Homo sapiens: one gene and its partner. The protein of the gene in region 1 interacts with the protein of each later gene in a biochemical or structural test. Each region holds a gene or a part of one and is shown in the gene's direction. Other genes may lie near its edges. The genes, in order: ACVR1 and BMP7.

Region 1 (4,675 bases):
AATAATTAAAAGATTTTTGTTTGAATGTTTCCTGGGATCCTTACAGGAGAAGAAGGGCCTCTAAGATGAGGTGTTCCAAGATTTCTGAGAGTAGCAGTTTATACCCAATATGATGTTTATGATTTGCCAGGAAAGGTTTTAATCCACTGACTGATATGCATTTCAAATGCAGTTACACAATGTGGGTAAGTTATTTGGAATTAACTAGTTTTTTTTTTTTTTTGAGACAGAATCTCACTCTGTCACCCAGGCTGGAGTGCAGTGGTCTGATCTTGGCTCATTGCAACATCCACCTCCCGGGTTCAAGCAAATCTTGTGCCTCAGCCTCCTGAGTTAGCTGGAACTACAGGCACGCGCCAACACACCCGGCTAATTTTTGTATTTTTAGTAGAGACAGGGTCTTGCCATGTTGCCCAGGCTTGTCTCGAACACTGACCTCAAGTGGTCCACCCACCACGACCTCCCAAAGTGCTGAGATTACAGGCGTGAACGACCACACCCAGCCTAGATTTTTAAAAAATATAATTTAGACTTGTTTCCATCTCAAATATAAACCTTTATTTAGCCAAATTTGTGAAGTTTTAAAAAGATATGTAGCATTTCTTGAAAAGATGCTCCTTATATCTAATCTTTTGCATAAATGGTTTGTATTTGTATGGAATTTGTAAGGATGGATTCCCACTGTTGAGTAATTTCTGTGATAAATGAAAAGGGAATTGAAGCTTTTCAGGTGGCTTGTAGGAACTAGAACAACCGAATTACAACTTTCCTCACACTCCTTCTGTCGCCTCCAACAACTTCTTAGGTATTTAGGAATAGAAGAAAGTCGCCTGGAGGAAGAAAAGAGAGCAGTAAACCAAGTTATTACCTCATTGTTTGAACCCTTTGTTGAGGGAAAGGAAATAATAGATGTCTTGGTTTTATTTCTATGAAGGGGAAGAATCCATTTTCTAATTCCAAATGATGAAGTTAAAAATTTTTCTGTTTAAGGAGTTGATATAATTCTGCTGGAAAAGAAAAAGTTTCCAGGCCATTGGAAATCATGCAGGGGCAGAAGCTGGTATTAGCTACTGTTCATATTTGCTTTTGGGCAGAGGAAGAGTTCATTATTTATCCTTCTTTTCCTCTGCCTTCCCACATGGCTATCCTCTTTACATTTTATTTTGTGCCTTCAATATGATAGTAAATAATAGAGCCATCAGTCAGACAGCTGTGCCTGTAGTTAGAGGGTACTCAGTACATGTAGAATGAATGAATGAGGAAATGAGTATTTCCTATGATATTATTTGCATCCCTCCTAATGGAAGAGATTAATTTATAGCAATGTTTTTCTTAACAAAATACTTTTCTAACAAAGAAAGGGGTATTTTGATGATGGTCTTGGTTTATTACTCCCTAGCTCTAGTTTGTGGACAACTTTTTATTTCTATTTATGGTTTGAAACCACTAGATTCAGGTACTTTCCATAGGTAGCTTGGGTGGTTTTTATCACCAAAGGAATTTTTGTTCTATGTCTCCAGTGCCCTGTTGGGCGTTACAGAGCTGTTAATATACACTGTTGGAGAATTTTGCTAATAGTTATGATTACATGAGAAGTTTTCACGTATTTCCTTCTAACAATTATCCTTCTTCCAATACCATGCAGGGTGTGTATTTATTGCCTTTTTCTCCCACCTGTTTTAGGACCTACCTCTAGCTTCCAGGACTGCCCTGAGGTATGAGGAAGGTGATTAGTATTTTCTTCTGTCACATTATAACCTGTGACACCCATCAATGAAACCTTGGGGCAACCTGTACTCTCTTGCTAACCGAACACAATTCTTGTCCTTGTGTGCAGGTATAGTGGAGGATTACAAGCCACCGTTCTACGATGTGGTTCCCAATGACCCAAGTTTTGAAGATATGAGGAAGGTAGTCTGTGTGGATCAACAAAGGCCAAACATACCCAACAGATGGTTCTCAGACCCGGTAAGAATGCCAGTTTCTCAGTTTTAGAGCTCTTTTCCATTGTTTGCTATTTGTTTCCCTTTGAGTTTCAACTGGTATTGCATCTGAGTGATCTGTCCCGTGGATCTGTTGTTTTCTCTTCCTATTTTATATAGAAGGGTTTAGATCTAGAAGAGTAAGTTCAGAAAAATACTCCATTCTTGAAGAAGCCATATCTCATAGGGGTTGCTAGTGAATGACAATATTTGTAAGAATTTCTGTGAATATGCAGCTTCAGGAATCGGGAGACTCATGACTACTGCTATTAGCCCTAAGACTGCATGTATAAACCAAGAGACTTTAAGTGAAGCTTTTAACCTCCTTTCCATCTCTGTATATCTGAAATCCCAAACACAAGCTGCTGGATGCTGAAGATCCTGTATTGCTACTCATAAGTAGTAGCAGGTATAAAACAATGAGAAATGACCCTATTTGGAAATTTCAGGATTATCTCTAGGTTAGTATTGCTGCTTTTGGCACCCATAAAATCATTAAGGGGTCCAATCTGGCCTATGTCGTTTACCTAATAAATTGGTAGCATTAAGAGTCCAAAGGACAGAGTTCATGAAATTCTAAGAATGGCCTCTTTATCAGTGGTTAAAGGTTGAATATTTGCTTGAAGAAGATGACAGTAACATAACTCTAATTTCACAAGACCTGCGAGTTCTTCAGAATAGTAGACATGATATCAGCCCAGCTTCCAGGGCCATTAAAAAGCCAGTTTGTCATTGTGGTGTTTGTTCTTTCTCTCCTCAGACATTAACCTCTCTGGCCAAGCTAATGAAAGAATGCTGGTATCAAAATCCATCCGCAAGACTCACAGCACTGCGTATCAAAAAGACTTTGACCAAAATTGATAATTCCCTCGACAAATTGAAAACTGACTGTTGACATTTTCATAGTGTCAAGAAGGAAGATTTGACGTTGTTGTCATTGTCCAGCTGGGACCTAATGCTGGCCTGACTGGTTGTCAGAATGGAATCCATCTGTCTCCCTCCCCAAATGGCTGCTTTGACAAGGCAGACGTCGTACCCAGCCATGTGTTGGGGAGACATCAAAACCACCCTAACCTCGCTCGATGACTGTGAACTGGGCATTTCACGAACTGTTCACACTGCAGAGACTAATGTTGGACAGACACTGTTGCAAAGGTAGGGACTGGAGGAACACAGAGAAATCCTAAAAGAGATCTGGGCATTAAGTCAGTGGCTTTGCATAGCTTTCACAAGTCTCCTAGACACTCCCCACGGGAAACTCAAGGAGGTGGTGAATTTTTAATCAGCAATATTGCCTGTGCTTCTCTTCTTTATTGCACTAGGAATTCTTTGCATTCCTTACTTGCACTGTTACTCTTAATTTTAAAGACCCAACTTGCCAAAATGTTGGCTGCGTACTCCACTGGTCTGTCTTTGGATAATAGGAATTCAATTTGGCAAAACAAAATGTAATGTCAGACTTTGCTGCATTTTACACATGTGCTGATGTTTACAATGATGCCGAACATTAGGAATTGTTTATACACAACTTTGCAAATTATTTATTACTTGTGCACTTAGTAGTTTTTACAAAACTGCTTTGTGCATATGTTAAAGCTTATTTTTATGTGGTCTTATGATTTTATTACAGAAATGTTTTTAACACTATACTCTAAAATGGACATTTTCTTTTATTATCAGTTAAAATCACATTTTAAGTGCTTCACATTTGTATGTGTGTAGACTGTAACTTTTTTTCAGTTCATATGCAGAACGTATTTAGCCATTACCCACGTGACACCACCGAATATATTACTGATTTAGAAGCAAAGATTTCAGTAGAATTTTAGTCCTGAACGCTACGGGGAAAATGCATTTTCTTCAGAATTATCCATTACGTGCATTTAAACTCTGCCAGAAAAAAATAACTATTTTGTTTTAATCTACTTTTTGTATTTAGTAGTTATTTGTATAAATTAAATAAACTGTTTTCAAGTCAAACAGTGAAATTGTTTTTCAAAATATAAAAAAGATCTGTGTAACATTATGCATTTTCTTATGGGAGCAATAGAAGCACAAAACTAATTTGTAAATTGAATTTGCTTTTTAAATCTACTCATGAACTTATGTAAGACATCATAAGGATGTCTTACAGCTTGAATTTGGTATAAGAAAATTTGTTTCTTCCTTTGGCTGTGATTTTTTTGTTTTTTTGTGTTTTTTTTTCAGTCAGTTTCTCCAGCTGTAAGGTGAGGGTAACAAATCTCTCTGACCTGCCTTTCTCACAGGGGGGTGTTGTGAGTGTAAACGGGAAGGAGGATGTTAAAGCATTTTGTTGAGTGAAAGGTTCCACGTGAGTGTAAAGTGGTCTTATGCATCCGCCCTTGCTGCTTGGGAGAGTCCGTTCTCGGTTTTTTCACTGCTTGTACACAAGATTAAAAGGTAGAGTTAACAGTAGCCCAATAAGAGAAGAGGTGTGAACATGCCGGAATGTCTTCCAGAGGTAAGTTAATAACTTCATTAGGATGTATTTACTTGGAGGGTATATATTAGAATGACATTTTTTTAAATTACAAATCAAAATTTTAATTTGTGTTACAGATAACATAAAACTTACTAATTTTTAAGTGTATGTTAAGTGCATTCACCTTGTGCTACTATCACCATCATCTATCCACAGAACTCACGTGAAACTGAAACTATATCTGTCAAAC
Region 2 (7,290 bases), on another chromosome or scaffold:
AGGTGAAGTTAATTCCAGATGTGAACAGGCCCATCGCTTTTGCTGGCCTCTGACCCCTCCCATCTAACTTGGGGGCACCGTATCTGCAGAGGCTCAGCCTCCCAACTCCCCGTCATCCTCACCTGGGTTCAGATTCTACTTTGTTGCTTCCAAGCCGGGTATCCCTGGGCGGGTTATTCAGCCTCTCTGAGCTTGTGCTGTCATGAGTAAAACAGGCTTTGTTTCCACTGGATGCTTTATTTTTGGCTTTGAAATACTCATCACCCCCAGACATGGTATTACATATATATTTGCCAATGACCTCATCATTGTCAAAGCCAGTGGATAGATAGTGTGTTCTTAGGTCCATCTGCAGAGCAACGGACACGGAGTTTGCTCCCTCTATTTTCCTCCCCTGTTTTCCGGGACCCCATACCCTGTTGGTGTCCCCATTCTTCCTGCCCAAGCGTCTTCCAGATCCTTCCTTACCGGGTACTCCTGCACAGTCTCCGTTGCATTCCCCTGACCTCTCAGTGGAACACAGAGGCCACCTTCACATTGCTTGTCAGGCTGTACACACTTTCCCCAGGCGAGCTCATCCAGTCTTCTGGCTTTAAATGCCATCTCTACACTGGGGACACCCAAGCTTACATTACTGTCTGGACCACTGCCCTGAGCTAGCATTTATTGAGCACTTAGGGTATGCAAAGCTCTGTCCTGAGCTAGCATTTATTGAGTACTTAGGGTATGCAAAGCTCTGCCCTGAGCTAGCATTTATTGAGCACTTAGGGTATGCAAAGCTCTGCCCTGAGCTAGCATTTATTGAGCACTTAGGGTATGCAAAGCTCTGCCCTGAGCTAGCATTTATTGAGTACTTAGGGTATGCAAAGCTCTGCCCTGAGCTAGCATTTATTGAGTACTTAGGGTATGCAAAGCTCTGCCCTGAGCTAGCATTTATTGAGCACTTAGGGTGTGCAAAGCTGTGTCCTGAGCCCCAGCTGTGCATTAAGTGACAGAGGCAGGGCTTTGAACCTGCCTGGGCCCTACTCCCTCCCTCACTAGCCCAGAGCTCATCTCTTCCAACTGATCAATTGATCAAGCCTAGGCCAGACCTCTGCTGCCCACCTGACACCTTCCTTTTGGTGTCAAGTAGGGATTTCATACAATATCTGCTAAACGAAACTGCATTTTGTCTTCCACCCTCTATTTCCCAGCTTATGCTCCATTGCCTCAGTTTCCCTACCTTGGTAAACAGTCCCTCCCTTCTTCCAGGGGCTTGGGCCAAGAGCATGCCAGTCTCATGAGACTCCCCTTTTTCTCACACCTTTTATAATCCCTTCCCAAATTCAGTCCTAAATCTGCCACCTTCCTGGTTTGGAGGCTGTGTTCTTGTTATTCGAGACATCACCTTTGGGGGAAACTGGATGAAGGGCACTTGGGACCTCCCTGTACATCGTCTTTCAACTTCCTGTGAATCTATAATCATTTCACAACAAAAAGTTAAAACCAAAATAAATTCTAAAGATTTTAAAAATGAACTCTTGAGGATCTGGCCTTTTCTCACCAGCCTCCCTCCCCACTGCCCTGGGTCCAGTCTCACGTCACCTCCCACGTGGACCATTCTGTTGCCTCCACCTGGTCTCCCTGCTTCCAGGTTGACCCCTGCCATCGGCTCTCCAGGGGCAGCCTGAGTGGCCTTATAAACACCACTGAAAGTCCCACCCCAGTGGTTCTTGCTTCTTGTAGAGCGCCTTGGTGTCCTGACCAGGGCCCTGGATGCGAAGTCCCACTCACTGGGTGGCTTGAAACAATAGGGCTTTATTGTCTCACAGTCTGGAGGCGAGAAGTCTAAAGTCAAGGTGCCACAGGGTTGTCCTCTTACAAAGGCTCTAGGGAGGAATCCCTCCTTGCCTCTTCTGGCTTCAGAGGCTCCTGGCAATCTTTGGCATTTCATGGCCTCTGTCTTCCCCAGGCTGTCTGCATCTGTGTCTTTATGTGGCCTTCTTATGGGGACACTAGTCACTGGATTAAGGCTCATCCTAATCCAGGATGAGCTTATTTTAACTGACGACAGCACATCTGCAAAGACCCTGCTTCCAAATGAGGTCACATCCTGAGGCTCTGTGTGGGTGTGAATTTTAGAGGACATCAGCAACAGAGGACACTGGGCTGAGGCAGGTGCTCGTGTTGCCCATAGGACCCGACCTGACTCGTGCCCCTACTGCCCCTCCCAGTTGTCCCTGCTACTTGCCCCTGCCCCTTGAACACACCCTCCTTGCTCCTGCCTCCGGGCATTCACCTCTGCAGTTCCCTCTGCCTGGAATGCACTCTTCCCAAACATCCATTGGGCCCCCTCACTCACTGTTACCCAGATCTCTGCTCAGATGGCCCCTATAGTCATTAGGGTTGTTTGCAATTGTTCCCACCTTCCCTGGCACGGAGCAAGATTGCCCCCCAACTCCCTGAAATTAGGCAGATACCACGACCTGCTTTGGCCAATGGAATGTGAGTGGCACTTATGGGGTTCGCTAGCTTGCCACCTTCCGCACCCCTCAGCCTGGTTCCCCACCCCTTATATTTCCTGCCTGCCTTCCCCACTTGCATGGAAACCCAGAGAACAGGATGTTTTCTTGGCTGCTTTCACAGTTGTGTTCCAAGTTCCTTAAACAGTACCTGGCCTAGAGTGAGTACTCAATAAATACTTACTGGATGGAGGAATAAGGAGTTCATGAATGAACCGGGAGGCATAGCATCTCTGCAGCCCTGTCCCGCTCGTGGCCCTCCTGTAACTACTCTTCTGTGCACTTGGCTGCTTCCTGTCCAGGGCAGAGCATCAACCCCAAGTTGGCGGGCCTGATTGGGCGGCACGGGCCCCAGAACAAGCAGCCCTTCATGGTGGCTTTCTTCAAGGCCACGGAGGTCCACTTCCGCAGCATCCGGTCCACGGGGAGCAAACAGCGCAGCCAGAACCGCTCCAAGACGCCCAAGAACCAGGAAGCCCTGCGGATGGCCAACGTGGCAGGTATGCTTAGGTGGGAGGGATCACAGACCCACCACAGGAACCCAGCAGGGCCCCGGCGGGACCCGGCAGGAGACTGACTCAAAATCCATTCAGGTGCTCACCAGATGGCTCTGGAACAAATATAGCAGGAAGAAAACCCCCAAATCCACCCCTACACAGGACATCTTAATTCTGTAAAAATAAACTAGCTTAGAAATGCAAGTAGCAAAACATTCGTATAACACAACACCAAGCATGTAGATATTTAAATAAACAGAACAATGGCGGCACTTGCAGCTACACAGAGATGAAGGAAAGACCCTGAAACGTGGATGGGAAGACCCCTGGGGGGGCTTACCCCATGGAAGGAGGGGGAGGAAGAAATGGGGAGGTAGAAGAGTTTGCTGTATCTTTATTTCATAAATGAAAAATATTTTAAATTCATGGCAAACTTTAATACTTGATAAATATTATATATATATACACACACACACATTTTTTTTTTTTTGAGATGAAGTCTCACTCTGTCACCCAGGCTGCAGTGCAGTGGTGCGATCTCGGCTTACTGCAACTTCTGCCTCTCAGATTCAAGTGATTCTTCAGCCTCAGCCTCCCGAGTAGCTGGGACTACAGGTGTGCACCACTGTGTCCAGCTAATTTTTGTATTTTTAGTAGAGACGGGGTTTCACCATGTCGGTCAGGCCGGTCTCAAACTCCTGACCTCAAGTGATCCACCTGCCTTGGCCTCCCAAAGTGCTGGGATTACAGGCGTGAGCCACTGCACCCGGCCAGGTGGTAGGTGTTTTAAGAATATATGATGTGCGGTACTTTTCAGTTTGTTTGAAATGTTTATTTACGATAGGTTTTAAAAAAATTAAAGATAATATTTTTATTGCAAGCAAATCAAACATTAACAGTAAATATAAGTAAAGTTAACGCATTGTGCGAAGGAGACTTCCAGGAGGTCGTGCTCTGCAGGTCCTCTAAAGCAGACAGCTTTTAGCCCATCATGTTGTGTGGTTCTTGAGGCTCTGAGGTAGATGGCCTCCCACTTCACAGAGGGGAAAACTGAGGCTCAAAGAGGGTAAGTCGTTTGTCTAAGGGCACAGTGTAGGTAACTGGCAGCCCTGGGATTGGGTCCCTGGGGTCTGGGTTGTCCCTTGCCCCAGGCCCTCTTCCCTGTTGGGCATTGCCGGGGCCATCTACCTGGCCTGGATGAGCTTCGGTGTCCCCAGCAATCCCATTGGGTGCTTTCTGACAATTCACCAGGCATTCGTGGAGCCCCCACAGGAGCCTGGCTTTGTCCCGGGCACTGGGGCTGTGGCTGGGGTGCAATCCCTTTCCCCATAGGCTGATTGGGAAACCGACATTGACAGCCTCTGGTGGCCTGGGGGTGCTGGGATCCCCAGAAGGTGCATTCTGGTTTTGAGCTTTGGAGGTGGGCTGGCCTGGAGCAGACCTGCTGGCACTGTGGGCATCTGTGGACAGCCCTCCCACACCCCTTGCCTGGCTCATGCCCCCTGCACATGCAGTGTCAAGTCCGCCAGAAGATGCATCGGGACTCCTCCCAGACTAAAACCAAAGCTTCGAATAATGAACCTCACAACAAACCATTTTCCAGTGGACTGGAGGGGTGACACCTCCCAGATCCAAGGAGCCCAGTTTGCTCCCCATCCCCAATCCCATCCCGCCGGCCAGGGGAGCTGCTGCCCGGGGGTGCCGTTTCTCTGGCTCTTCAGGAAGCCATTTGCAATGAGCAGGGCAATAGCCTCTCCAAGATGCCAGTGTCTTAATCTCTGGAACCCGTGAATGTGTCACCCTCCAGGGCAAAGGGGAGTTACGACTGCCCTTGGAATCACAGGTGCTAATCAGCTGGCCTTCCAATACGCGGGCTCTGTGTAGCAGGGTGGTCCCATCGGTCCTTATAGGAGAGAGCCTTTTTGAGCTGTGGTTGGAGCCATGTAAGCACAGAGCACAGAGGGGTGGAGATGAGTGGGGCCACCAGCCCTGGGATGTGGGTGGCCTGGAGAAGCTGCACAAGGCAAGGAAGGGATCCTCCCCTAGAGCCCCCAGTTGCATTTACCTGCTAAGACTGGTGTTGGACTTCAGAGCCACAGAGCTATAATCCGCTTGTATTGTTTTGATAATTTGCTTGGTTAATTTGTTAAAGCAGCGATAGGAAAGAATACATCTTTGTTGGCAAAGTGATTTTCTTTTTCTTTTTTCTTTTCTTTTTTTTTTTTTTTAGAGACAGGGTCTCACGCCATTGCCCAGGCTGGCGTGCAGTGGTGTGAGCATGGCTTACTGTAGCCTTGACCTCCTGGGCTCAAGCAATCCTCCTGCCTGAGCCTCCCAGGTAGCTGGGACTATAGATGGATGCCACCACACCTGGCTATTTTTTGTAGAGACAGGGCCTCCCTATATTGCCTAGGCTGGTGTCGAGCTCTTGGGCTCAAGCTATCCTTCCACTTTGGCCTCCCAAAGTACTGAGATTACAGGCATGAGCTACTGCCCCCAGCCTCCTCAGAGTGCTTCCCTCATCCTGCTAAGGAGCTGGGACACAACCATCTGGGGGCCGGCTCAGGAGTTGCAGCCTTCTTGGCTCCAGGTTGATCACAAGGCAGAAAAAGGTCTGAGGTGCAAACCTGCCCTGCCACCATGTGGGAAGCTATTAGCTGCTTATCACCTCCGGGGCCTGCGGTTGGTCCCAGGAAGCACCCAAGGGGAGCAAGGGGCTATTGAGAAAGGTCCTGGCGAGGGGATAGCAGCAGCCCCACCCCCAAATTAACCCTCTAGTGCCAATAGCTTCTTCCTCCTTACCTAGCCTAGCTTGAAATTTATGTTCATTTTACTTTTCAAGGGAGAAGGCAGGTCAGTGGGGTTGGTGGCCTTTTTAAGACAAGGCTTCCTGACCCCTGGCGGGTGTCCTGGGGCCCCCGGATGGACCTCAGTGGGTCTGTGTGGCCCAGAGTGTGTAGGGATTCCGTATATTTTCTTTTCTGACAGTGGATCCATTTTTCCAGGTTTCTCAAAGGGGTCTTTGATCTCCCAAGTCAAAAACCAACCAAATTCCTTCATTTGTATTCGAAGCCTCTTTTATGCTGGACTCTTGAAGGCTAGGATTCAATGTCGAACACCCACACAAAGGCTGCCCTTGGGGGTGTTAATTTAGGACAGGAAGGAGGGGGTTGCCATTCACATCCATACATAGTAACAGACCCAGAGTCAGGGTGGTGCCTAGGGAACGCAGCCCATCCCGAGGGCTGCAGACAACATTTCGTGGCGAGCGAGCTGAGAGCTCTGGGTCCAGTGGGTGCCCACGAGGCCAGGCTGGTCCGGAGAGGATGCTCTGGGCTGTGGGACCTGCAGGGGCAGAGGCCTGTGCTGTGGGGTTTCCTGGCGCCTTTGGGGAGTGGGGAGGAGGCTGTGGGGGCTGAAGCAGGGGAGGGGAGTGAGGGTGGGCGGGTCAGGCATTCTCTTGGGAGTCACGTCTTGAGTTTGAACTTCATGCCAAGCATGTTCAGAAGTCTTTGCAGAGATTCAAGCTGTGGTGTGGGGTGCAGGTGATAAGATCATTCTGGCTGCTCTAAGAAAGGTGAGGAACAGGGTGGGTGCCGAGGGGGTGCTCAGAGGCCGGAGACTCCTTAGAGGATGTGGCAGATCATCCAGGCAGGAAGTGTAGGCAAACTGCATCCCGGCAGAGACTTCCGTGTCTTGGAGCTCCATCGGGTGCACCTGGGTAATGAGGGGGAGAGGAACTAGGCATCGCGGGCTTAGAATTCACTCTGATTTTCCCCACCGCCTCCTCATCAAAGCCCCACCAAGTCTCCATTTACACAGCCCCCAGGACGGGGCTCTCACTGTTTCCCGTGGCAGAAATTCATTGCTGGGAACCTGCCTCCTTCCCGCGGATGGCTCGTGGCCCTGTTTGCAGCTCTTCTAAAACCTGCCTGGAAGTTAAGAAAAAAATAAAATAAAAATACCGAGGCCTGGGCCCCACCCTAGGCTTAGGCCAGAGTCCTTGAGTGTGAGTGTGTACGCCTGTGTGCCTGCCCCTTTGAATCGCTCGTCCCCCCGGTTTTGGGCTGGAGCCCTGCCGTGGAGCCACACAAGTTGAATCTCTCGGCAGCCCTGTGTGTGCTGGGGCGGGGGCACATGCTCCGGCACGCTACCCCACGCGGAGCTCGCTTTCCTGCCCGCCAGCCCCCTCCCCCGGGGCTTCACGTGCTCTTCAGATGGTGCGGTTTGGGGTTGAGAAACTGGGTCCCTGCACTTCCTTCTCCCCACCCACGTTTGGACCCAGCTCCCTG

The links.
Region 2: the proteins of ACVR1 (region 1) and BMP7 form a complex in vitro, tested with the Homo sapiens proteins (2 studies listed by BioGRID).

What each region holds. Positions count from the first base shown.
Region 1 is NC_000002.12:157,735,733-157,740,407, reverse strand, and holds the end of ACVR1 (activin receptor type-1 precursor), read left to right. Parts: intron 1-1,837; coding exon 1,838-1,968; intron 1,969-2,742; coding exon 2,743-2,877; 3' UTR 2,878-3,962; downstream 3,963-4,675. UniProt on the Homo sapiens protein: Bone morphogenetic protein (BMP) type I receptor that is involved in a wide variety of biological processes, including bone, heart, cartilage, nervous, and reproductive system development and regulation.
Region 2 is NC_000020.11:57,179,433-57,186,722, reverse strand, and holds part of BMP7 (bone morphogenetic protein 7 preproprotein), read left to right. Parts: intron 1-2,803; coding exon 2,804-3,001; intron 3,002-7,290. UniProt on the Homo sapiens protein: Growth factor of the TGF-beta superfamily that plays important role in various biological processes, including embryogenesis, hematopoiesis, neurogenesis and skeletal morphogenesis.